7 linked regions of the Homo sapiens genome follow. The protein of the gene in region 1 interacts with the protein of each later gene in a biochemical or structural test. Each region holds a gene or a part of one and is shown in the gene's direction. Other genes may lie near its edges. The genes, in order: MAGI3, PTH2R, PALLD, NHERF1, ARHGAP6, KCTD3 and SLC45A4.

What was found.
Region 2: the proteins of MAGI3 (region 1) and PTH2R interact in a test that uses a peptide from one of them, tested with the Homo sapiens proteins (one large-scale study listed by IntAct).
Region 3: the proteins of MAGI3 (region 1) and PALLD interact in a test that uses a peptide from one of them, tested with the Homo sapiens proteins (one large-scale study listed by IntAct).
Region 4: the proteins of MAGI3 (region 1) and NHERF1 interact in a test that uses a peptide from one of them, tested with the Homo sapiens proteins (one large-scale study listed by IntAct).
Region 5: the proteins of MAGI3 (region 1) and ARHGAP6 interact in a test that uses a peptide from one of them, tested with the Homo sapiens proteins (one large-scale study listed by IntAct).
Region 6: the proteins of MAGI3 (region 1) and KCTD3 interact in a test that uses a peptide from one of them, tested with the Homo sapiens proteins (one large-scale study listed by IntAct).
Region 7: the proteins of MAGI3 (region 1) and SLC45A4 interact in a test that uses a peptide from one of them, tested with the Homo sapiens proteins (one large-scale study listed by IntAct).

Annotation. Positions count from the first base shown.
Region 1 is NC_000001.11:113,645,515-113,649,014, forward strand, and holds part of MAGI3 (membrane-associated guanylate kinase, WW and PDZ domain-containing protein 3), read left to right. Parts: intron 1-971; coding exon 972-1,128; intron 1,129-3,500.
Region 2 is NC_000002.12:208,486,792-208,490,291, forward strand, and holds part of PTH2R (parathyroid hormone 2 receptor isoform 1 precursor), read left to right. Parts: intron 1-2,220; coding exon 2,221-2,359; intron 2,360-3,500. UniProt on the Homo sapiens protein: This is a specific receptor for parathyroid hormone. The activity of this receptor is mediated by G proteins which activate adenylyl cyclase. PTH2R may be responsible for PTH effects in a number of physiological systems.
Region 3 is NC_000004.12:168,892,052-168,895,551, forward strand, and holds part of PALLD (palladin), read left to right. Parts: intron 1-2,434; exon of another isoform or gene 2,435-2,527; coding exon 2,528-2,626; coding exon of another isoform or gene 2,627-2,714; intron 2,715-3,500. UniProt on the Homo sapiens protein: Cytoskeletal protein required for organization of normal actin cytoskeleton. Roles in establishing cell morphology, motility, cell adhesion and cell-extracellular matrix interactions in a variety of cell types.
Region 4 is NC_000017.11:74,751,628-74,755,127, forward strand, and holds part of NHERF1 (Na(+)/H(+) exchange regulatory cofactor NHE-RF1), read left to right. Parts: intron 1-3,500. UniProt on the Homo sapiens protein: Scaffold protein that connects plasma membrane proteins with members of the ezrin/moesin/radixin family and thereby helps to link them to the actin cytoskeleton and to regulate their surface expression. Necessary for recycling of internalized ADRB2.
Region 5 is NC_000023.11:11,141,421-11,144,920, reverse strand, and holds part of ARHGAP6 (rho GTPase-activating protein 6), read left to right. Parts: intron 1-672; coding exon 673-941; coding exon of another isoform or gene 942-1,063; exon of another isoform or gene 1,064-1,524; intron 1,525-2,607; coding exon 2,608-2,688; intron 2,689-3,500.
Region 6 is NC_000001.11:215,570,304-215,573,803, forward strand, and holds part of KCTD3 (BTB/POZ domain-containing protein KCTD3), read left to right. Parts: intron 1-3,482; coding exon 3,483-3,500. UniProt on the Homo sapiens protein: Accessory subunit of potassium/sodium hyperpolarization-activated cyclic nucleotide-gated channel 3 (HCN3) up-regulating its cell-surface expression and current density without affecting its voltage dependence and kinetics.
Region 7 is NC_000008.11:141,298,289-141,301,788, reverse strand, and holds part of SLC45A4 (solute carrier family 45 member 4), read left to right. Parts: intron 1-277; exon of another isoform or gene 278-2,338; coding exon of another isoform or gene 2,339-2,390; intron 2,391-3,500. UniProt on the Homo sapiens protein: Proton-associated sucrose transporter. May be able to transport also glucose and fructose.

The DNA of each region.
Region 1 (3,500 bases):
TATAATTGATGGAAGGGTCTGATGAACTTTAACCGCCTCTGACAGAATGCTAAGATGTATGGGGAAGGGTAGGAGACTACTGTTAGCTTCTCTGCCTTCTCATTGGGTCTGGGTGATTGAAGGGTCCCCTCTAGCACGACACTTTGTAGTGGCTGACCCCTGATTACTCCCTGACAGACTGGTGCCCCTGCATTCTAGTCATTGTTAATGATCACAAACATCCATAATCTCCCTCTCCTAACAATAATCCAGGAAAACGAGCTGGTCTCAAAACCATATTTCTTAGGCCATTTATTGGATTTCATTGTTAACATTTTATTAAATAAGTCATTTTGCTTGGCTGTTATCTTGGGAAAGTTCTAGCTGAATAGGAAAAATATCAAAATATGCTACTATGCTTTCCCTTATCTAATTGTCTTGCATGGTACATTTTCTCTTAATATATGTGAATTGGCCAGACAGGGTTTTCACAGTGCCATCTTTATAACCTAAATTAGAGTTAACCTCTCCTGTTTTCTTAGAAAGAGTATTATCTTAAACATCTTCCTTAGAAATTAAACTCAGTGAATGGGAGGTGGGCCGTGCTAAGAATTTTATGAAGATATTCTCTGAATCTCCCTCTTACTTTACTTAGAAGTGCTGCCTTGTATTGTATTTCTATTTATCTTCATCTCAAAGTCAATTTGTGTCTTGGTGGTGGAGAAAAGGGCAAAATTGTTTAAACATAGGACTAACTAAGGCTCTTCAGTTGATATTACTATAAACTTTTTTCTAATTTAAGTTAAATATGTTTCAACCAAATACACATTGCTATGAAAATGAATTCCTGTAACTGTAAATCTGCTGTGTCTTTGATCCTGCCACCTATACAACTATAATCAGTTGACATATCCATTTCAGATATCAGTTTTATGAATTAATCAACCATCTGCTTTTTAAAAAATACTAAGTAAGGCTCTTTTCCATTTCAGAAAACAGATAAAAAGGAAAATGCAGGAAGTTTGGAGGCCATAAATGAGCCTATTCCTCAGCCTATGCCTTTTCCACCGAGCATTATCAGGTCAGGATCCCCAAAATTGGATCCTTCTGAGGTCTACCTGAAATCTAAGACTTTATATGAAGATAAACGTAAGTAGTTGTGGAATATTTCAGGAGAGCATATAACAAGATAAATTTGGATTTATTTTAGACTAGGACCTTCCCATCTTTCAGAAGCATATTGAAAAGTTATTCCTTCATTACCATTTTAATAGAACTCTGGACTTCTTCCATGTATATTCGACATTCACACATTCATTTTTTTCAAAATCATGCTTTAAGTGCTAGTTATCTACCAGATGCCATACTAGGTAACCAGAATACAGAGATAAATAGGTTACATAGGACCTGCACCCAAAAATATTATTAGAACTAAATGGAAAAAGACAAATATGTAATCAAATAGTATACAAATAAGTACACATAATAAGCCTAACAGGTACAGTGATAGAAAGATGAAATGGATAAATTGGGATCCAAAGAAGGAATATTCAGTTTTATCAGTGTGGGCAGTAGGAAGTGTCAGGAAAAGCTTCATACTGGAAGCAAAGCTTTAACTAAGTCATCAGGGATGAAAAAGTGTCTTTGAGGAAGATAAAAGGGAAAGATAGAAGGAATAGCACATGCACACTGGCCTTGCATGACTTGGGCTCTGCAAGTAGTTCACTTTCGCTGGGTGCAATTGGCAAGGAAAGTCACAGAGGAGAGCAGGAACAGATTGAGGAAGGCCAATGATGCCCTTCCAAGGGAGCTGGAGTTGGTCATATAAATAACAGAGAACCACAGAATGCCTTTAACTATAAGGAAGGCATAGTTTTGTGTTTTAGAAAGGTTTTTCTGGCAGGAGTATGAAGGATGAATCAGAGGTGTATGCAATTTGAGGGAGGGTGTGCAATTTGAAGAAGAAACTAAAGAGTTGACTCCTTACAGGAGTCCAGCTGAGAGATAAAAAGAGAGACTGCATAAGGCAGAAATTCATGCATGTTCCTACTAATTCACTTACTAATGATAAATCTTTTCCAAAGTAAAATTGCAGATTTGAGTAGGTATAATTTTTTAAAATTTATTTGTTCTTAGAAAGAGATGTAAATCTACCTTGGAAAAGATATGTACAAGTGGAATATATGTATAGTTGACTTAATGCTTATTTAACTAGTTGCAGAAGTACATCTTGATAATCCCAAGCCATATTCAGAAAGATGAAAACCAGTTGTACGCCCAGCAAAGCAATAATTTAAATTAGCATAACAATGTAGAATCCCTTTCTTCATACTTTCCATTCATAGCCTGATACATTATTAATACTGGTATAAACTCTGCAGTCCCATCAGGCTTCACCCATAAAATAAGTGAGTTGAACTGATGACTCTTTTTTTTTTTTTCCCCTGAGACAGAGTCTTGCTCTGTCACCCGGAGCTGGAGTGCAGTGGCACAATCTCAGCTCACTGAAACCTCTGCCTCCTAGGTTCAAGCAATTCTCCTGCCTCAGCCTCCTGAGTAGCTGGCACTACAGGCGTATGCCACCATGACTGGCTAAGTTTTGCATTTTTAGTAGAGACGGGGTTTCACCATGTTAGTCAAGCTGGTCTCAAACTCCTGACCTCGTGATCCGCCCACCTCGGCCTCCCAAAGTGGACTCTTTTAATCTCTAAAGTTCTACAATTTTAATAGGAAGTATATATCAAAAGATACTGCTTCTATAGAATATTATCAGGAATTTACTAATCTCACTTTTTACATAGTTCCCTGACATGTTTATTTCTTCTCTCTTTACAGTAAATACTTCTTACCTATAAATAACATTAATATTTTCCCAAAGGAAAAATTTTAGTCATGAAATAGATTTTTGTGACTTAATATTCTTTTTTTTTTTTTTTGAGATGGAGTCTTGCTCTGTTGCCCAGGCTGGAATGCAGTGGCACGATCTCAGTTCACTGCAACCTCTGCCTCCCAGGTTCAAGCAATCCTCCTGCTTAATATTCTAAGGAATACAACCTACCCTTTGAGGGTAGGACAGTATGAGTTAGGAGATTAGACCCTGGAAATCAACCTGGATTTAAATCTTAGCTTCACCACTTGCTATGTGACAATGGCCAACTTACTTACACCCTCAGTTTTCCCACCTAGAAAATGGGGCTAATAATAAATGTTAGCTCTTAATTATTTTCCTTTAAAATGCTATCATTTTGCAAAACTAGGCTAGGTAAGTAGTTCATATGGAATACTTTTCTGAGAGAAAGGTATTAGCTTGAGAGCAGGAATAAGGTATTTTACAGGCACTCTATACAGCAGTGCCTGTACAGATTTAATGTACCTTACCCAAGTGTTAACTTAGGTCATTTGCACCTGTCAAATATCAAACTCAAGTTTGATCATTCTGAATTCAACATTGTTATATTGATTGGACAGCATTAGAAGTTAATGGCAGTGTAATACTGAGTATATGGAAGTGAGAGTAAATG
Region 2 (3,500 bases), on another chromosome or scaffold:
CCAGTTAGGTCAGAGGAACCCACTGTTTATCAAGGATCTTGCCTTGGATGGAATAGATTTAAGGTAGAATCTTCATATTGAATAGGCTGTAGGTAACTCAAAGTAGGAGGTGTGAGTACCAGGAGCAGCATAGGAGAAAGCCCGTAGGCTGCAGGGAAGCTCTGAATGTGAGGATGAGTGGGTGGAGCAGATGGTTCAGGTACTAGTGAGAGATAAGACAGGCAGAGGACAATGAGGTGTAGGAAATGTACAACTCTACCTACTTCTACATTAGGCATTTCAATATGATTTCAACATGATTTTATGGGACATTCTAGCTCCTATTGTCAAGAGGGTTATGATAGGAAAGTGTATGTACATGGAAGATGATTCCCAGTAAAGCCTGAGAATATTATAGCTCATATGGACTTCTAGGCCCTATTTCCTCATTTTGGAGATAAAACTAAATCACACTCACACAGGTAGTTAATATCAAGTATGGAACCTGAATCAAGATCTCTGTAGCCTTAGTCTAGTGTGATCTGTACTCACTCATACAGCTTATTTCCAAGAAGAAAAACAGATAAATAAAGCAGCAGGAGGAAAGACTAGTGAGAAAGGAAGAGGGTCAATTGTTTGAGATTATTAGAGTGTAAATAATTCACAGAGAAAGGGAGATATTTGCAATAATTATGAAAGAAGAAGCCAGATTTGGCAATTTCTTGGATAAAAAGTATAACCTCACCCACTCCAGGAAAACCTCCCAGAAAATAGTATGCTTGAGGGTGCTAGCTATCTATTGCTGCAAAAGGAATGACCACAAACCTAGCGGCTTAAAACAACTCCCTTGCTATTTCCCAGTTTCTGTAGGTCAGGAATCTGGGTATGGATCCCCTGCTTCAGGATCTCTTACCAGGCTGCAATTGATTTGTCAGCTGGGGCTGTGGTCTTATCCTAAGGTTGGACTGGGGAAGAATCTACTTCTAAGTTCATGTGATTGTTGGTAGGATTCAGTTACTTGCTGGCTGTTGTCCAGATGCCACCTTTCCTTGCTACATGGGCCTCTCAGTATAGCAGCTCACAACATGGTGGCTTGCTTCATCGAACCAAGCAAGAGAGCCAGTCTGCTAGTGAGATGAAAGTTACAGCCTTATGCAATGTAATCTCAGAAGTGGGATGCTGTCATCTTTGCCATAATCTACTGGTTAGACACAAGTCCCAGGTCTTGCCTACACTTAGAGGGAAAGGATAAAACAGGGGCAAAAATAGCAGGAGGGGGGATCATGGAAGCCCACTTAGAATAACCATCATATTGGAAAGCCTGGAATTCTTCCAAATACTTAAGAAAACTTGTAGAAAGAGGCAGTTAAGGAGAATGATGAAACTATATCAAACTACTTAGTTTGCCAAAAAGACAGACAAAATAGACCTAAAGGCACCTTGAGACAGAGTATTTGGCAGAGAATATTCAGAGAAGTCAAGATGAACTGACCACATATGGCTCATAGAAAAATATAAAATGTCTCCCAAAATAAGCATCATCAGTGAAAAATGGAGATACAAATGTAAGAAGAAACAAGGGAGTAATTGATTTTAAAATGAACAAAATAAGCTAAACTACTTCTATGAAAGTAAAGGCAGTTAATCTGGATAGAAGTAACACTTCTTTAAGTCTCAAATATAGAAGTTAAAGGAAACTTAGGACAGAAAAAAGGCATTTTACAACTTTATGTAAATAGACTCCTTTAAGCAAGAGGAGTGGAAATAAGACTGGAGAGATTTAGGGGCTAGCAATTACAGGGAGTGAGAATAAACTACCTGGTTTAGTATGTAAGTGACAGAAAGAGGAGGGAAGGGAAAAAACTAGCAGAAGCAGTGGGATCCAAAGAGATAGAGAAAGGTCAGCCCAAGCCTGGGCAACATGGCGAGACCCCGTCTCTACAAAAAAATTAAAAAAATATTCAGGCATGGTGGCAAGCACCTGTAGTCACAGCTACTTGGGATGCTGAGACAGGAGGATTGCTTGAGCTCAGGAGGTCGACACTGCAGTAAGCTGTGATCACGCCACTGTACGCCAGCCTGGGAGACAGATAGAGTGAAACCCTGTCTCAAGAAAAGATAAAAAGAAAGTGTCAGCCCCACCCCCATTAGCTCTGCTAAGTTTTTTTTTTCCTCCAGCACGCTGTCTTTACTGAAAGGCACTCTAGTTAATGAATGAAAAGACTTGCTGTTCTCCTTTAGGAAACTGGCCAAATCGACACTGGTCCTGGTCCTAGTCTTTGGAGTGCATTACATCGTGTTCGTATGCCTGCCTCACTCCTTCACTGGGCTCGGGTGGGAGATCCGCATGCACTGTGAGCTCTTCTTCAACTCCTTTCAGGTAAAGGGTGCTGCCTAGTCATCTGATTCTTGTAATTTGCAGTTTTTTTTCCTTTTGGTCACTTACAACCTTTTTCTCTGCACTCTCTCTGGCTTTGATGCACCTGTCTGGGGAGTTGGGGGGTGCAGAAAGGTCAATATTTCTATAGTGCCTGTGCTTTTCTGTCCTATAGAGGTCAGGTTAATCCTCTGCTCACAGCAGGAGCAGTTCTGGAGCTGTTCGTCACACAAAAAAAGCCTGGACAGAGAGATAAGGAACATCTTGTTGTAAAATATGTAACACCTATAAGAATGAGGACCTCTGCTTGTGTGTATGGAAGATAAACAAAAGTAAAAGAAGGTGAAGGCAGGAAAGAGCAAAAAGGAGTGGGGAGGGGAGACAAAACTGAGGAAGAGGTTGCTGGCACACATTTTATCTCATTTGAAGCTGTAATTACCATCATCTCGCACATGGATTACTCTTTGTCCTGCTTACTCATTTGCTAGTCCACATATGATAGTCTGGAGAATCTTAAGAATATACATTTGATCATGTCATATACTTGCCAGAAATACTCAAAGATTTCCAGTTGCAGTCAAACTAAAACTCACATACCATTGTTTGGCATACACAGCCCTGCATGTCGTGGAGCCTGTCTGCCTCTCACCCTGTATCACACCAGCCTCCATGTAGCTCATTAAGTTAGGGCACAATATTGCTTCCATACGTTCTGTTGCTTAAGTTCACCTCTGCCTCTAGGGCTCACACTTGTATTCCTTTTGCCTGGACTGCTTTTTCCCCAAATATTTACACAGCTGGCTACTTGTTCTTGTCACTCAAACACACTTGAGTATCACTCTCAGAGATACTTTGTTGAGTTCCTCATCTAATACATCCACTACATTACTCTTTTTAAAATCACTCATTTCTTTTCTTGCATAACCCTTCTCATTTTGCATTTTTCTCATGTGCTATTTGTTTATATTTTATCCATGTCTCTTCCTTTCTAGAACAGGGAACTTGTCTGTTTTGTTTACATTGTTTATCCCTGCCCCTGTCATGCTGAACAGCTACCACACTGCATAAGCTCAGTAAATATTTTTGAATGAACGAAATAAAAGGTTTCTTTGTATTCTTACCATACAATACTTTATGTTTGTAG
Region 3 (3,500 bases), on another chromosome or scaffold:
TATATAGATAAGATGTTTTCTCCACTGGATTTAAGTCTTTCCTCATCAGTTTTTGTTTGTTTTTTCATCTCTTTTGTTGATGCTATCCTTTTAAAATACTCTTTTCTTTTTAAAATACTATTTCCAGAATATTTTAAGGGGATGGGAAAAGCAAATCTAGAAAATAAGACTTACCAGGTAAAGGAGAGGAACCTTCTGTAGCTTTATTAAGGAATTGTCACTGGAAAAATTTGCCTGGCTCTTAAGTACAAGACAAGGATCTTTTTGTATAAAATCTCCCTTTCAGACACCTTTTTCAGAGTAGAAAGCTCTCTATAATTATGTTTTCTGAGAATTTTAATTATCAAACATTGATAAGTAAAACTGTGAGAACAGACCACACTTGAAAGCTGGAGAGCAGAGGAGGGGTGCTGAATGCTGATTTTAGTTTATTAGGGTATCTTAATCTGATTAAGAAAGATTAAAATTTCAATGAAGTTTTGTGTTAGTTACTCATTTCACTGAGTATAGAAGATTTTCACAAGAGGAAAATATTTTCTCCCTGAAATAAGTGATTGCATGTGTAAATGTACATACTCTGGAAGTTTTCCCTGGCTCTGTCAACTAAATCTTTTAAAAGATTAAAATAAATACATATGGGAACTTTTTCAAGCCAGGTAAGGCATCACTCCAGCTTTTTTTTTTTTCTTTTTGGCTGTCTATGTCAATGTTCCTTATGAACTAAGATTCTCTTGGTTAAGGTAAGACTTCCTTAAGCTATTGGTCAACCCACATTATATATATTGTATGTATATTTATATTCATCTGTTTAGCAGTGAATAACATTCACAGTAAGTTCCACAGGTATCCACACTTGAGAGCTTAAAATGACAAGTAAGGTTTCCCTTTTTAGAAAATGGGATTCTCAACCAACTTTTTCCTAATATTATATATCATTCTCTTTCTTATCTTTGGTGTCTGTAGACACGGGCTTTTATAGCCAGATGGCATAGTGACTTAGAAAAAAAACTGTGAAGTATATTTGGCTTCTAGTGGTAGCAGGTGCATTCTGGTGAAGGAATAGATATGAAATTGATATTTCTGCTTATAAGGAACAGAGTGAAAATCACTCCAGGCCTGCCTTTGATGTGTTACAATTCTCCGTGAAAAGATTAGGGAAGCTTTTTAAGAGATCAGGTATTTAAGACTCTCTTTGAAAATTGAATTCACTGATTTTTTAATAGGTGTGAGAAAATTAATTTAATAACATAGTGGACTCAGATGCTTCATGCCGCCCTCAGACTCCTACCTCTGCCTCTTCTTGTCCTCTGACCTTTCTTTATTAAGTGAAATAATTTGAACTGCAGGACTATTTGTCATTTGGCACTTGACTTGTTTCACTTCCCGGTTTCAGCTGGGATTGAGATCAGCAATTACTGGAAATTGTAAATTTACCCAACATATTTTCCTGATTAGAGAGCTTCCAATCAAATTTGCATTTATATTTAGAAGTTTGGAAGTTTATCTGAAATAATTTCTGTACATTTTTTAGATTCTGCCTTACCAATTATTCTCTATTTCTAATCAAACACTTGCTTATAAAATGCTCCCGATGAGGCAGGTGGTATCTGAAAGTTCCTTCCAAACCTGTAAGTCTAAGGCACTTTAGAATGAGTATTCAAGAGCAGGTATCACCCCAACAGTCACACAAAAATGCCGGCATTTCTTATGTATAAGAATGGCATAGGTAAAACGGTTTGGGCCAATTCCAAAGTGCTAGCTGCGAGATGCAAGAACACTACCACTTTCTTTGCCTGATGGGCAAGCAGTCTGCTTCTGGGTCAAGTCAATTGAGGCTGTTAGCTTTGGCAAGTGTCTTGTGTAATCCTGTTGCTAATTCAGCCATGTGCATCATTCTCTGTGGATTATAATAGTTGCCGCCAATCCCCTACATTACACAGCAGCCTGGGAAATGCTCTTAGAGGTAAGAACCCCATCACTGCCAGCTCATCCACATCTTCCTTTAGCTAAACATTTACTGAGCACATACTGTTAAATGACTGATAGAATTATTTCCATTAGCGATACCTGTTCTTTTTTTAGTCAGTTTATTCTCCTTTTGAGTATCTTTGTTTTTTCTTTCAGTCAGTATTAGAGCTGACTTGGGTGTTCTGAAGCTGATGGATGGCTATAAAAATAACATTTCTTTTAAATTGTATTTTGCTGTTTAAATATCTTTTTTTCCATGTTTTTCATTAAGGACATGACAAATCTTTTCTGTGTGGTTTCTTCCTTGTCGCTTATTGCTCACTTTAAATTTGTGCTGTACCAATTGGTGGCTCTCTGGATTAGGCCATTAGTACTAGAAAGGGAGGTAAAAAGGTAGAACAACTGAAGCAAGAAAAAGAAATATGCAGGTATCTGAAGCTGGAGAGAGAACACTTACAGAAAATCATGAAAGTGTGTTGTTTTTTACTCTTTTTCATAGGGCAGTACATATTTGTGATTTTTTTCTAATTTTGTATTTTTTGTGACTTACGTTGTTTAGAGGTTAACATACGAAGAAAGAATGGCTCGTCGACTGCTAGGTGCTGACAGTGCAACTGTCTTTAATATTCAGGAGCCAGAAGAGGAAACAGCTAATCAGGTACCATGTTGCTCTGGACTTCTTAGGGTAACATTTATTCTGTCCCCCTTTTCCATCTTCCTTATGGATACTGTTCTTGGGATGAGTTCTGTGGAAAGTAGAGGGCAAGTCACAGAAAAGCAGTATTAATATCATCAGTCAACCTCACAGCTAATTTTTATTGAGCACATACTATGTTAAGTGACTGACAGAATTCTTTCCATCAGTGATACCTGTTCTTTTTATTCTTCTTCTTGATTATTCTCCTTTCCAGTACATTTCCATTTTCCTATCCTAAGTTTTATGCAAAATAATTTTGTGTGGAGAAACACATTTTCGCCGACATTGTCTGAAATAACTAGTGAATATTTCCCATTAGAGTTGGACCTTGAACAACACGGGAGTTAGGGGGACCAACCCCAAGCACAGTTAAAAACCCACATATGGCCGGGCACAGTGGCTCATGCCTGTAATTGTAGCACTTTGGGAGGCTGAGGTGGGTGGATCACGAGGTCAGGAGATCGAGACCATCGTGGCCAACATGGTGAAACCCCGTCTCTACTAAAAATACAAAAATTAGCCAGGTGTGGTGACGCACACCTGTAGTCCCAGCTACTCGGGAAGCTGAGGCAGGAGAATTGCTTGAACCCGGGAGGTGGAGGTTGCAGTGAGCTGAGGTTGTACCACTGCACTCCAGCCTGGCAGCAGAGTGAGACTTCGTCTCCAAAACAAAACAAAACTAAAAACACATATACGACTTTTGACTCTTCAAAAACTTAACTAACAGCCTACTGTTGACCAGAAGCCTTACTGATAACAAAGAGTTGATTAACACGTATTCTGTATGTTATATGTATTATAGACTGTAGTCTTAAAGTAAGCTAGAGAAAAGAAA
Region 4 (3,500 bases), on another chromosome or scaffold:
CTCTGCCCACCGGCTTTGCTTTGTGGATGGCCTTCCCCGCCTGCCCCGTGGGGAGAGAGGAGCAGCAAGACCCGCCCTGCTGTTCCCCTGCTTAAAGCCCTCCTCCCCCCATTCACCACCAGTCACAGGATGAGGCCTAAACCCTTGAGTCTGGGTTCAGAGTGCCGGCCGGGCAGAGCCGAGCCAGCTCAGCTGTACTAGCCAGGCTGTGCGAAGCCAAGTTACCTCACCTCTGTAAGCCTCCATTTCCTCTTGTGTAAGTTGGGGGTTATGGCAGCTACCTCGGAATTGCATGAGGCTGTGTGTAAAGCACGTAGCTCAGTGCCTGGCACTGAGTCCAGGCTCAGCCAGCCTTTGCAGTTGGTATTGGAATGAATACATATTTCATAGTGATCATTGCACACCTATCATGGGGCAGCTAGCGCTGGGTCAGCCTGCCTAGTTGGGCAAATGCCACTGTGGCCAAGCCTGGCACACAGTCAGTGCCTGATCGATGGTCACTGTGGGTTAAGAATGATACGTTGTGGCCAGGTGTGGTGGCTCACACCTGTAATCCCAGCACTTTGGGAGGCCAAAGTGGGAGGATCGCCTGAGCCCAGGAGTTTGAGACCAGCCTAGGCAACATGACAAGACCCTGTCTCTATTAAATTTTTTCTTTTTTTTTTTTAAGAGTTATATGCTGTTCCATGGCCCTTCTCCATCTGGCAGCCTGTTCTCACCACTGCCTCCCTACCCCCAAAACCACACCCAGGGTCCGAATTCCCCTCTAGCCTCTAAGCCTTCACACCCTGACACTTCTGTCCCCTCCCAGGGAGCCTGTCCTTAATCCAGTAGGCAGAGTTAGCATTTCCTTTCCTTCACTTTTTTTGTTTTTGTTTTTGTTTTTGTTTTTTTTGAGACAGATTCCACCCAGGCTGGAGTGGTGTCGCAACCTCGCCTCGCTGCAGCCTCGACCTCCAGGGCTCAATCGATCCTCCCACCTCATTCTCCCTAGTAGCTGGGACTACAGGCATGCACCACTATTCCCAGCTAATTTTTAAATTCTTTGTAGAGATGGAGTTTCACCGTGTTGCCCAGGCTGGTCTTGAACTCCTGGGCTGAGGTGATCTGCCAGCCTCGGCCTCCGCCTCCTCTTTGTCCTTACATCTTTTATCGCTCTAAACACACAATATTTTAATCATCTGTTTGTGACCTTTTTCTCCACTACGTGGTAAGCCCAAGGGCATCAACTGTGGCCTATTTGTGTTTCTATCCCCAGCGCTGTCCTTGGCACATGGTAGGGAGGCTCTCAAAAACAGTTTTTGAATTAATGAATGAATATATAACAACAGTCAGGGACCTTTGTCCTCATTCAGCTCATCCCGCCCCGCCCAGAGATTGGAATTCCAGATAGAACCTACCCACTCTTCTTTCTTGCCTGCTAGCAGCTTCTATTTGAAAACTAGAAAGCCAAAAGTCCAGGCTTTGGGGTCAGCCAGATCAGTGTTTGAATCCCAGCTCTGCCGTGTGCTGGTTCTGGGATCCTGGGAGTTCATTTTTCCCTGCAACCCTCAGCCTCCACCTCTGTGAAAGGCACTGCCTGCAGGGTTATTGGGAAGATTTGGTGGCATGACAGGTTTGTAAATGAAAGTGCTAGTTTGGGGTGTTTCCTGCCAGCCCTGACCCTGATCCCAGAGTCAGAGTGCAGGCACCCCAGGGAGCAAGGTGGGTGGTGGGGCACAGTTAGCTGGAGGGCCATCAACCTCTTTCCCAGGGCGGGCGGGCCATTTTACACCAACCAAGTTGGAGCTCTGGTAGGGCAGAACAGAGCTTGAGCTGCTGGGTGTTTGGATTTGAAATGGACAGGGTATGTGATTGTTTGTGTGTTGGGATCTCTTTCTTTGCTGGCAAAACAGTGTAGCCCCTGGTTCTTACCTTCAAGCTCCTGTTAACTCAGTAATTCTGGAGATGATTCTCTTGGAGATAGATGGGGGCTTCCTGGCCGGGCGCAGTGACTTGTGCCTGTAATCCCATCACTTCGGGAGGCTGAGGCGGGAGGATCGCTTAAGCCCAGGAGTTTGAGACCAGCCTGGGCAACATAGTGAGACCTCGTCTCTACCAAAAAAACAGGGGGAGGGGGGTGAATGGGGGCTTCCTTCTCAAGGAACTCCATATGTCTAGATGGGGTCCTTCTCCCCTTTCCCAGATGTCCCATCTCAATGGTCCCTGGGAAAGTGGGGTGGGAAATTAATAAGAAACTCAGGCCAGGCACGGTGGCTCACGCCTGTAATCCCAGCACTTTGGGAGGCCGAGGCGGGTGGATCAGTTGAGGTCAGGAGTTGAGGTCAGGAGTTCAAGACCAGCCTGGCCAACATGGTAAAAACCCATCTCTACTAAAAATACAAAAATTAGCGAGGCGTGGTGGCAGGTGCCTGTAATCCCAGCTACTCGGGAGTCTGAGGCAGGAGAATGGCTTGAACCTGGGAGGTGGAGGTTTCAGTGAGCCGAGATCGCGCCACTGCACTCCAGCCCGAGCAGCAGAGTGAGACTCATCTCCAAAATAAAAAAAAAAGAAAGAAGAAGCTCAGCCGAGGTCTTGTTGGTGCTGCAGGACTCTTTACAGGGAGAAACCAGAGCTCTAGACCCCAATAACAAATGTTCCTCTGTTTTCGTTGCTCTAAGATAGAGTGGCCCTACCTGGAAGGAAACAGGTTTGTACAGTGCCTTTAGGCACTCTACCTATGACATAAAGATGTTGACATGCATTTCTTTCTTTCTTTCTTTCTTTCTTTCTTTTTTTTTTTTTTTTTTTTCCTGAGACAGTCTTGCTCTGTTGCCCAGGCTGGAGTGCAGTGGTGTGATCTCGGCTCACTGCAACCTCCGTCTCTCAAGTTCAAGCAATTGTCCTGCCTCAGCCTTCCATGTAGCTAGGATTACAAACACCCGCCACCACACCCTGCTAATTTTTGTATTTTTAGTAGAGACGGAGTTTCACCACGGTGGCCAGGCTGGGTGGCACCTGTCACAACACCCTGCTAATTTTTGTATTTTTAGTAGAGATGGGGTTTCACCACATTGGCCAGGCTGGTTTCAAACTCCTGACCTCAGGTAATCCACCTGCCTCGGTCTCCCAAAGTGCTGGGATTATAGGCATGAGCCACCACACCCAGCCAATATGCATTTCATTGTCCCCCAGACAAATTAGCTATTGTTTTCTCTATTTTGTAGGTTGACAGTAAGTGTTCAATACATGATAGCTACTATTTGTGTCTAGCACTGTGCTAAGTACTAACCTTGCCTGTCTCATTTAATCCACATGACCACCAGTGAGGCAGATATTGGCCCCATTCTCTGCCTATGGAGGCTGAGGCTTGATCAGTTAAGGTGGCCATGGCGGGTCCCAGGACTCTGAGCTAGCGACTCCTCCCACACAGCGCAGGGGTGTGTCTTGGAACCCAACCCTCTGACTCTAGTGCCTGCACAGCCATTTGGCCACATGAGTAGGCTGTGCTTGAAGCCTG
Region 5 (3,500 bases), on another chromosome or scaffold:
GCACTAGTGCCTTGTAGAATCATTTTAGATGTATTTGAATAAAATGGAGTCTAGTGAGGGTCATATATTTATTGTTTTTGTCACTACTTTATACATGAAACACTTATTCCCACCGGTGGCATCAACATCTTTATCACATGAAGGATGGATTTATTTACACTAAGTACAGTAAGTATTTTGGTGGGATGGAAAAGTTGTCCAGAAAGCCATAATGAACTTCAAGCAAAGTGTCAACCATAGTTTTATCTGAATTATTTTTAATGCAGGATATTGAGGAAAGTGAAAGAGTTATCTACTAGTGTATCCTTACCTAATAGATAGTGAGCATCAGACTTTCACTTAAAAATGGAAGCAGGAATGAGTCCCTGAGGCACTTAGCGATGCCCATTGGCAAATGCAGGGCTCCTTGTCGGTTTCATTCTCACCGTGCCTTCTCCATCATTGCCTTTTCCTGTTATATCTGTTGGGTTTTACTGCCCTCTGCTGGTCATATCGTTGAAACCCTTTCACGTCATGGATGTACATGTCTTGGAACATTGCTCAAAATGGTCTTTTTGTTTCAGCCCGTGTCCACGCATACTCCTCCAGTCATTTGTGTAATAGCCATATTGTTTAAATCTGGTCACTACTTGTTAACAAACTCACGCACCTGTAATTGTCTCATTGTGCCAGAAGCCCTGACATGCTGCAGTCGGAAGTTTCCTTTTCCGTGGGAGGGAGGCATTCATCTACAGACTCCAACAAGGCCTCCAGCGGAGACATCTCCCCTTATGACAACAACTCCCCAGTGCTGTCTGAGCGCTCCCTGCTGGCTATGCAAGAGGACGCGGCCCCGGGGGGCTCGGAGAAGCTTTACAGAGTGCCAGGGCAGTTTATGCTGGTGGGCCACTTGTCGTCGTCAAAGTCAAGGGAAAGTTCTCCTGGACCAAGGCTTGGGAAAGGTAACTGGAGCCTGGCCAGCAGGCGCTGGCCAAAACAAGCGACCCTCCTCTTGTTGCATGTGGCATGGTGTGGGGCTCTTCGGACCTTCTCTTCGTCTCTCCCTTATTTGATGTTTCTGTAATTCAACCTGCATTTACCGAGTACCTGCTGAACGCCTACTCTAGGAAGAGGAAGGTATGGCGAGCCCAGTCGTTGGCTGGGAGGGTCCCTGCAGGCCACACTCCAAGTCTCAGATATCTGGGAAATAAACGCATGCCCAGAGGAGCCACTCCTATTCCCAGCTGATTCTTTTTCCCTCCAGCATCCTAGGAACTTTATGTATACTGGATTTGGGTTGCATATTTGCTAGTCTGAGGTGCCACCCAATTACTGCTGTTACATTTCTAAAGAAAACAAGCTGAACCTACTATATGTATGAAGACAACCTTCCAGAACCAAATAGTGTTAGTATCCAATGACAAGAGAGCACTATACTGGGAGTCACAAACCTGCTCTGCCACTTTCAACCTGCAGGATCTCCAGTGAGCGATTGAGCTTCCCAGAGTCCCATTTCCTCCTGCTGTGAAAACTCAGAATGATAACAGTATTTAATTCATTGAGTTTAATGAACTAATCCATGTAAAGCCCTCAACGCAGCACTTCAAATGTAATACGCACTCGATAATACTTGCTGTGTAATCTTGTGTGCATTTCTTACCTGCTCCTTACGCTAGTTGCATCGTCTGTAAAATGATCTGCTGGGAACCTCCTAGGGATGAAGTGAGATAACGCATGTGAACTGCTGAACACGTGGAGGCACCCAGTAGACGTCTGCTGCTATAAATCGTAATTATAATCCCATCATGGGATTGTAGTGAGGATTAAATGAGATGGTGAAAAAGCCTAATGTAGTGCCTTACTCCATAAATATTGATGGATAAGCTAAGGGGATTTATGAGTGAATGCATGCATGAAGAAATCCAGTGATACCAATAGCAAAGTATTCCTGAGGATAGTACAGAAACTCTATTGTTCCTCTAGTTCTGTGTTAATGTGTTTAGCACCTATAAAGCTGTTGTCACCCATCACCCTTCTATTCATTTCCTATAACATGCAAACTTATTATTTTATGGTTCTGGAGGTGAGAAGTCTAAAATGGGTCCACAGGGCCTCTTTCCCTTCTGGACGTCCTAGGGCACAATCGTTTTCTTGCCTTTTCTAGCTTCTAGAAGCTGCTGCATTCCTTGGCTCGAGGCCCCTTCCTCCATCTTTTAAGCCAACAGTCTAGCAACATCTTCTCTCCTACCCCTCTCTTATAAGGACCCTTGTAATTATATTGGCCCCATCCAGATAATCCAGGAAAATCTCCCCATCTCAAGAACCATAATTTAATCACACCTGCAAAGCCCTTTTCGAAAATAACATCTTTGTAGATTTGTGGGATTATGACACAGATATCTTTGGGGGGGCCCTTATTCTGTCTACCACGAGCATGATATAGAAAGGGCCTTTTTGTAAATCCCAAGTAGAATGAACACGCTGAAAGGTGGATCTGAATTGTATTCTGTTTTGTATACAACAGGATCTTGAATACAATACTTTGCACAGAAGAGATGTTATTAAAATGTTCATTGATTTTTAATTTTCCTTTTGTGTTATATACCTTTTTATACACTTTTTCCCTAGATCTGTCAGAGGAGCCTTTCGATATCTGGGGAACTTGGCATTCAACATTAAAAAGCGGATCCAAAGACCCAGGAATGACAGGTGAAGTATTAATTTTAAACTTTATTGCATTTACTTTTAAAATTATTTTCTAAAGTTTTCTTTACTATCATTATATTACATGCTTGTCAAACATTACTTGGGAAATGCTGAAAATGGGAGGGGATGAAACTATCCTTAGGCTTTCCACCCAAATATGCCAATCTTTGACTATATTTTTTTCCATTTCCTTTGCAAAGGTTTTCATAGTTACAGTCACTCTGTCTGTGCAACTTTGTATTATTTTCTAACTTCCATTTTCCAGTTACTCTCCATTATCCTTTTTAAGGGCCAGGGGTATTCCACAGAGTGCATAATCATAGCTTACAAACCAATACTAAGTCATTTGAAATTTTTTGTTATTGTTGTAATAAGTTACACTTTCAGGAGCCTCTTTTATGTAATTAATTTTTCAAATTATTAATAGATTCACAAAATTTTGGAAAGCAAGTCAAAGGTTATAAATCCCAAACAGGGAAGTGCGTCAAATATAACAAGGCTTTCCAAGAATCTGGAGGTACAGTCACCTCCTGTGCTGTATGGGACCCACTACCTTACATTCTGTAAACTGTGGATGGCAGGAGATTTTACACTGCTGTGTGCAAATCTCATCAGTATTGCAAGTTAGTGGGTTTTCACTTTTGCTAACTTAAAAAACAAAATTGCATTTGTTAATTTGATTTGCATTTCTTTCCTACCAGTATTTTTCAGTGTTTCTATTAATTTGCTGAACTTCCCCCCATTGAATTGTTACTTATATCATTTCCTATTTATGTATGCCAGTGTTTTTTAAATTCTTATGAACTCTTTATATA
Region 6 (3,500 bases), about 100 Mb from region 1:
TTTATGGTTTAATACTTTGTGGGTGATTCAGAAAGTAGAGTAGATGAAGTTTCATTTAGAATTGTTAGTATTCGTTATTTACAAAAAGTAATGAAGTGAATTCACTATGACTGAATTTATGATTAATTCTGTTATGGGCAAGTGTGATTTTGGGCCTCATGCAAGAGGGCTGGGACTAGCCATTGAGGACTCCTGGACAAAGAGCTTTTGAGTCAGGTATATGTTTCCAATTCCCAGGCTTTATCTCTAACTAGCCTAGCAACCTTGGACAAATATTTTGATACTTAGTCTATTAAAATGTAAAGTGACAGACAGTAGTACCAATCTTATCAGATTGTTATAGGAATTTGAAGTAATAAATGTGAAATGCAAGGGTTAGTGGCATTATCAGTACTTACAGTGCAGAATAAATAACTAGTTAGATTGCTACCAAGTTAATTTAGTAGGAGGCAAGTTGCATGAAGTATAACTGTGGGTATGCAAATTTCTTTAGTCCTTTGCTGAAACCAGATTGTACATGACTCTGTTCTTGGGACACTATGGGTATGGGATAAAAAACAAATCAAAACAGAAAAGGCTTTCAAATGATTATGCTCATCATGTGTAATTTTAAGTGTGTTAGTTTTCATGAAGTTATATTCGAGACTGGTTTTGGGGCCAGAAGTTTAAAAAAAAATTGGTGGGGATGAGGGTCTAATTCCTTTGCCCAGAAATTCCAGGTTACTAACCTTTCCCCAAAATGCTGATTAAAATTGAAACTGATAATATGATTTTAAGCAGACCTTTGTGATTTTCTAAGTAGCACATAATTTTAATTATTTGGAATACAATTGGTGAATAAGTGGTGAATATAAAAGATTGCAAGTTATAAGCTGTCCTCATTTGGAATGAATTTGATGGCCTCCAAAACAGTGAATCTGCAATGTATGAATCCTTGGATCCTTCAATTTACCATTGAGTGGATTTGCTTTGATTTTGGACCAAGTCAGTTTTCTGTGACTGGGGTAATCTGTGTATTTTTTATTTTTCTTAAGAGTCTATTAAGAAACGCATTTAGGAGCATTTGCAGTGTTTTCTTAAAGTGACTCATTTGTTAATCAGATAAATGGGCGTAGGAACTGCTTATAAACACCTAGACTGTCCATAACCTGTGAAATTAGTTAGTAGTCAACTTCTATGTGTTCCCTAAAGTACCCCTTACTGTAGTTTACATTTAAATGTCTTTAATAAATGAATTGTTTTACTGTCTTTCCTTCAGTTAGCCAATGAAAGAATACTTTTCCTTACAAATTGTAAAGTTGTATGTGGGAAGAAGTGGAGATAAACTTTTTTTTTTTTTTTTTCCGAGACGGAGTCTCGCTTTGTCGCCCATGCTGGAGTGCAGTGGCGCGATCTCAGCTCACTGCCAGCTCCACCTCCTGAGTTCACGCCATTGTCCTGCCTCAGCCTCCTGAGTAAGCTGGGACTACAGGTGCCCGCCACCACGCCTGGCTAATTTTTCGTAGTTTTAGTAGAGACGGGGTTTCACCGTGTTAGCCAGGATGGTCTCCATCTGCTGACCTCGTGATCTGCCCGCCTCGGCCTCCCAAAGTGCTGGGATTACAGGCGTGAGCCACCGCGCCTAGCCGAGATAAACTTTTAATTGTGATTGGAAAGCATGTTTTGATAATGATAGAAAATTTATTTTGGAGACTAAGGCACTTTTTATGGAACAGTGCATACACGGCTTCTGCTGTTACTGACACTGAGACTGATACTGCTAAATGATTTAAGTGGGCAGTTTAGTGACATCTGTGTGTCAACACCAGTGTATTCTGAAAGTGCTCTGTTGTAACCATAAAATGCCTGCAGATCGTACAGAAGAATCAAGTCTCCGTTTTGTACAGAACATTTAACTGAGTTTTAGAGTGTGATTCTGTTTATCACACATAAGTTTCAATAAACATTTACTGGGTGTGTGCTAGGTGCTAAGAACAATGCTTTTAGGTGGTCCTCTCTGGCTTTAAGAAAAAACAACATCTACTTTTTTAATACAAAATCCATTTCTGAAACTGAGTTTGAAAAGTGAATTTACAGATAATCCATTTATCAAGATATGTAAAATATTATGAGCCATTGTTGCCTCAGGTGCCTGGATGGACTTGCAAAGTTGAGAGATCTGTGAGACTTCTGACACTACTCTGTATAAGCCTTGGTAGTCACAGTCACCCTGGCCTGCAATCCAGTGCTATTTAATAGCCCACTTAGAAGATGGGAATGGGAAGTAGGATGTATTTTGAGGTTTGTTATGCTGCAGTGAGCATAATAAAAAAAAGTAAGCAACTTCCACGTTTTTGATAATTCCAGGCTGCTAATTTAGGTAATGGCAGACAATAGATGGATGATACAGTGTATACATGCACAGCCTGGGAAACATCCCTTAGCCATTTTGGCTGGGGTTTGGCCTGTGTTTCCTGGTGATAGTGCATGGTAACTAGTGCCACTATTCAGTCACCTTGTTTAGTTTAAGTATGAAAGGTAAAAATAAATTTAGGGATTTCATATAATGCCAGAAAATAAATGTGGAGTGAAAGTAGAGGTTTGCTAGGCTGGGTGAGATAACATTGTAGTTCAAGGTGATATCTTAAAATGAAAATACTCAGAGAAGGGCTGGACTGAACAAGTACTATATTGCTTTGTTTGCCATATCAGTTTACATAAATTATTGGTTTGTTGTCCCAGTCTATTATACTGTACTTTGGTAAAGATCCTCCCTTGGTAATATACAAGCTTGATCAAATGACAACCTCAGAACAGTGATGTATTTGGCTGAATGATTTTTGAATGAATGAAGTCAGCAGTTGCAGATAGCCCAAGACTGCCTATAAAGAAGGTGTTAAATGAGTAATTTACAGTGAAATTACTATGAGCTTAAAAAGAGATAATACAGGATTGGATATTTAGAAAAACTATTACAGGGAAGGTAAAACCTGAGTGGTATCAAGAAAGATGGACGGATCTTGAATTATTGGACATGAAGAGAGTGATCTAGCTGAATAAAGATACCAAAATGGTAGTAAGCATGAATTTTTTGGGGATATGAAGAAGTTTTGTCCTATTAGAGGGGAAAACCAGCATTTGTACTGGAGAGATGAGATGGAACCTGAAGGTAATTTTGAATGTTATACTGAGAAGTTGAGACTTGGTGTGATGGGCTAATTGTTGATTCTTCAGCAGAGATTAGCTTATTGGAAAGTAGTGTTTTAAGATGCATTATATGGCGGATAACAAGTTGTTTATTGTTATTGAGAGCTGCTTGTATAATCTTAACTCTGAATTGAAAGTAGCAACGTTTAAAAATATTAACTGTAATAAATATATTGGTACAGCTATAACTATAAAACATCTTGTAAATCATTAGCCAGTGTATTAAAACAAGTTAACTAATACTGAAATTTCAAATCATGTTCTCACTTATAATACCAGATGATTTTTAATTGCAGATTTAGTACCTCAAGACA
Region 7 (3,500 bases), on another chromosome or scaffold:
ATGGGGTCTCACTGAGTTGCCCAGGATTTTTTTTTTTTTTTTTTTTTTTTTTTTGAGATAGGGTCTCATTCTGTCCCCCAGGCTGGAGTCCAGTGGTGAGATCATGGCTCACTGCAGCCTCGACCTCCCCGGCTCAAGTGATCCTCCCACCTCCACCCTCCAGGTAGCTGGGCTTATGCCCAGCTAATTTTTCTTTGTATTTTTGGCAGAGACAGAGTTTCACCATGTTGCCCAGGCCGGTCATGAACTCCTGGCCTCAAGCGACCCTCCCTCCTGCCTCAGGCTCCCAGAGTGCTGAGATTACAGGCATGAGCCACTGCACCCGACCTATGGACTGTTCTCCATACTTCTCTGTGACAAAAGTATATATTGCAATTTAAAACATTTCTGTGATCATTAGGCTATGTTAACATCCAGAAGAATGTTTTATGTCATTGTAATTATCAGTACAGAATTGATCACAGAAACATAAATATCATTGATCTTGATAAACAATTACTAAATGCACAAAATACACCGGAAGGAGGTCTCAAAGAGCTGGGGGGTGGGGCCCGTTTAAGGTGCCTTAATTAAAGGGATAATTGAACTGTCCCTGGTACCGGGTACATCTCTGTTGCTGGAACGTTCCCTGGGAAGAGTGCCTTCCTCTTGTCTAGGCGGGGCAGGCAGGCTGGAGGTGGGGGCTCCCTGGGCACCGGGACTTTCTCCACAGCAGCTTCTCAGGCAGTCCAGTTTTAGGCAGGCGTTTGTGGGGACCTTGCGGCTCTCTGAGTTCCCCACACCGGAGGCCCCTCAGGATGCTCCTGTGTTTGCACGGGGCGCTTGCTGTGCTGTGTTCGCACACTTGGTCCACGGGTAAGGTCCACGCCACTTCGTCGAGTCACGGGGTCCGTGCTGCTCCATGTTAAGCTTTACTATTTAATTGCCTGTTTTCTAAATGCGCAGTGTTAAAGGGCAGAAGATGAACCATTTCACGAGTAAGCACGCTGCGGCATTTTCATCTGGTTGGGCTAAAATGTAAGACAGTGGAATTGTGCCTCGGGTTAAATTTTAATTTGACAGAAAGGTGTGTTAGAAGCAGAGAAGACTGACATGGCCAGACTTTAGATTTGCTAGAGGTTTTTGCCTGGCAGGAATCTGGTCACCCTGCTCCGCCCTTCTTCCTGCACAGGGCATCGCTGTGCCTGTTCCGGAGCGAGGCAGCTGGTCTCAGGCCATCAGGTTGCCATTAGGATCAGGGCCATGGGGTGGGTTGGGAAGGTGGGCCTCTGCCCGAGAACCAGATGAGGCTGGTCCGGGGCGTTGACACTTGGCATCCCTGAGAATTTGCTCAAATCTGGAGATGCTCAAAAAGTAGAAAGATTTACTATTTTTAGCCTTTAGACCTAATGAAATTTGGTAAGAAAATCAGTTTAGTAACCAAAAAACCACCACTTCCCATCCCACTCAGAAACAGCACGCTGAGGACTGAGAGCAGTAGAACTTTGCGTTGTGTGATGGTTTTATGACATAAGAGGAGATTTGACGGACCTGGGGTCTCTGGTGTCTCCCAGCTTTGTTGGAGGAAAGCAGGCTACTCGCCCAACTCTGTGGAATCGGTAATGTGGGTCCGGCTGAAGTTTTAACCTGTCTTCTGTCCTCAGGGCTGGCCATTAGGAGTCCACTAAGAATGCGTCACTTCCAATTCGGCCATGCAGCTATTTGGGGAGGCGATGATGTCGTCAGATCATGGGGCCAGTGCCTTCATTCCAGGGATGGGTGAGGAGAAGAGCAGTTCCACGGTCGTGTTCTAGGAATCCTGCGGTTTAAACAGTGAAGAACGGGACCAGGAAGACAGGCCAGCCCCTAATTACCCCCACAGAACCGGATTAAATCACCCTGGAAAGGGGATCCTCCATTGGTCCCTTCTCCAAAGCAGCAAATCCTTATATTTTCGTGGTATTTTGGGTATTAATACTGAAATCAATGTTTCAGTCTCTTAAAAGACTTTGAGAAACGTTTTGGCTGCTGAAGAAGAACAGGTACAGCAGAGTCCAGCTGGTTCTAGAAATTCCTGCCCTAACCTGAGGCTTTACTTCAGTATGCAAATCCGCTCCCAGCCAGGAGTACTAGAATAACTGCTAGTGGTTTTTTTCGTGTTGCTTACGTAAAACGGCATTAAAAGCTTGGAGTGTGGAAGTCCTCCCCCATCAGGGCCTGCGCACCACCACCCTCTGCTGGATGAAGCCGGATCCCGGGGCTGCGGCCACGGCCGCTCTGCTGTCCCTAACCGTGCCCATTTGAAGGGCAGCTCTGATTTGGTGGCGAGAACGACACCCACAGCTCAGGTGGTCTTGTTATGGACTTGCAGCCTGGAGCTGGTGTCTCTAGTGTGACAGGTGTCTCCCTAGGTAAGCCGAAGGGAATATCAAGGCTGTTGAAAACATGTCTAGTCCACTACTGAACTATTGAGGTGTCGAGAGTGTTTTTAATTCTTAAAGGCACGGGGCTCCCCGTCCGCTTTCTCCTTCCGTAGAAACATCATGAAGCCTGGCGTCCTCGTTGTGGGTGGGGTGCAGGGAGAGTTTATAGTCCGGGCTGGGCCCTCCTTGGCTTTGTGACCTTCCAGAAGCCACCCAGTGCTCGGAGCTTCTGCTTCCGTGTGGTAACCAGGGTGTGTGAGGGGTTTCTGTCTCCAGCACTCAGTAAGCGCCTGAGAAGGGGTCACAGCAGCACTCACGCTGCTAGACAGTGCGGCATCTGCATCCGTGCCGGGCGCCCAGCTGGGACCTCTGGAGCAGCGCCTGGTGGGGGCACTGGTGAGGGAGAGGAGCCACCGGATACGGCCGGCCTAGTGCAGTTGTGGGCCACTGGGTCGCACTGCTCATCAGCTCCCCCCACCCCCCACTGAAAAGTGCCGTTTGTCTTCTGCGTGGAGAAATGCAGCAGTGCCCTCCATGCCTTGGATTCGACTTTGAGGCACCTTTGCGGTCACTCCCCATGCCAGGTAGCTGCTGCTGGAGGGGGCTCTGTGGCCAGCCCTGCTGTTGGCCCACGCAGCATGCTAGTTCCCACACCCCTCCTCCCTGGCCAAGAGCTTGGAAGGAAGGACTCCTGGCTGCCACAGGTATGGGCAGCTGTGCCCAGCTGGCACTGCCCTCTGGGTTGGCTCCCTGGCTCCTGCGGAGGTCAGGGAGGAGGTGCTGCCGCTCCAATTTGTTTCCTTGTTTCTTTCGGGTTGGCCACTTGGCTTGCTGGGTTGAGCCTTTGGTGCCCAATTTTGCCCTCTTGTTGGGCACTGTCACTAGGCTCAGACTGTGAGCTAGCAGGGGACTGGGCCTGCTGTGGTATGTTCCATTCTGGAGATGGTCCCCAGGTGGCTGCTCAGTGCCAGGCTCAAGGCAGGTGCCTGAGAAGACAGCCATCTGGCCAGGGTGATGGGGCAGGCCTGGGAACCCCGAGGAGGGCATCTGACCCATGGCTGGGTGCGGAAAACGTCTGAGCAGGTAGTCCTTGAAAGA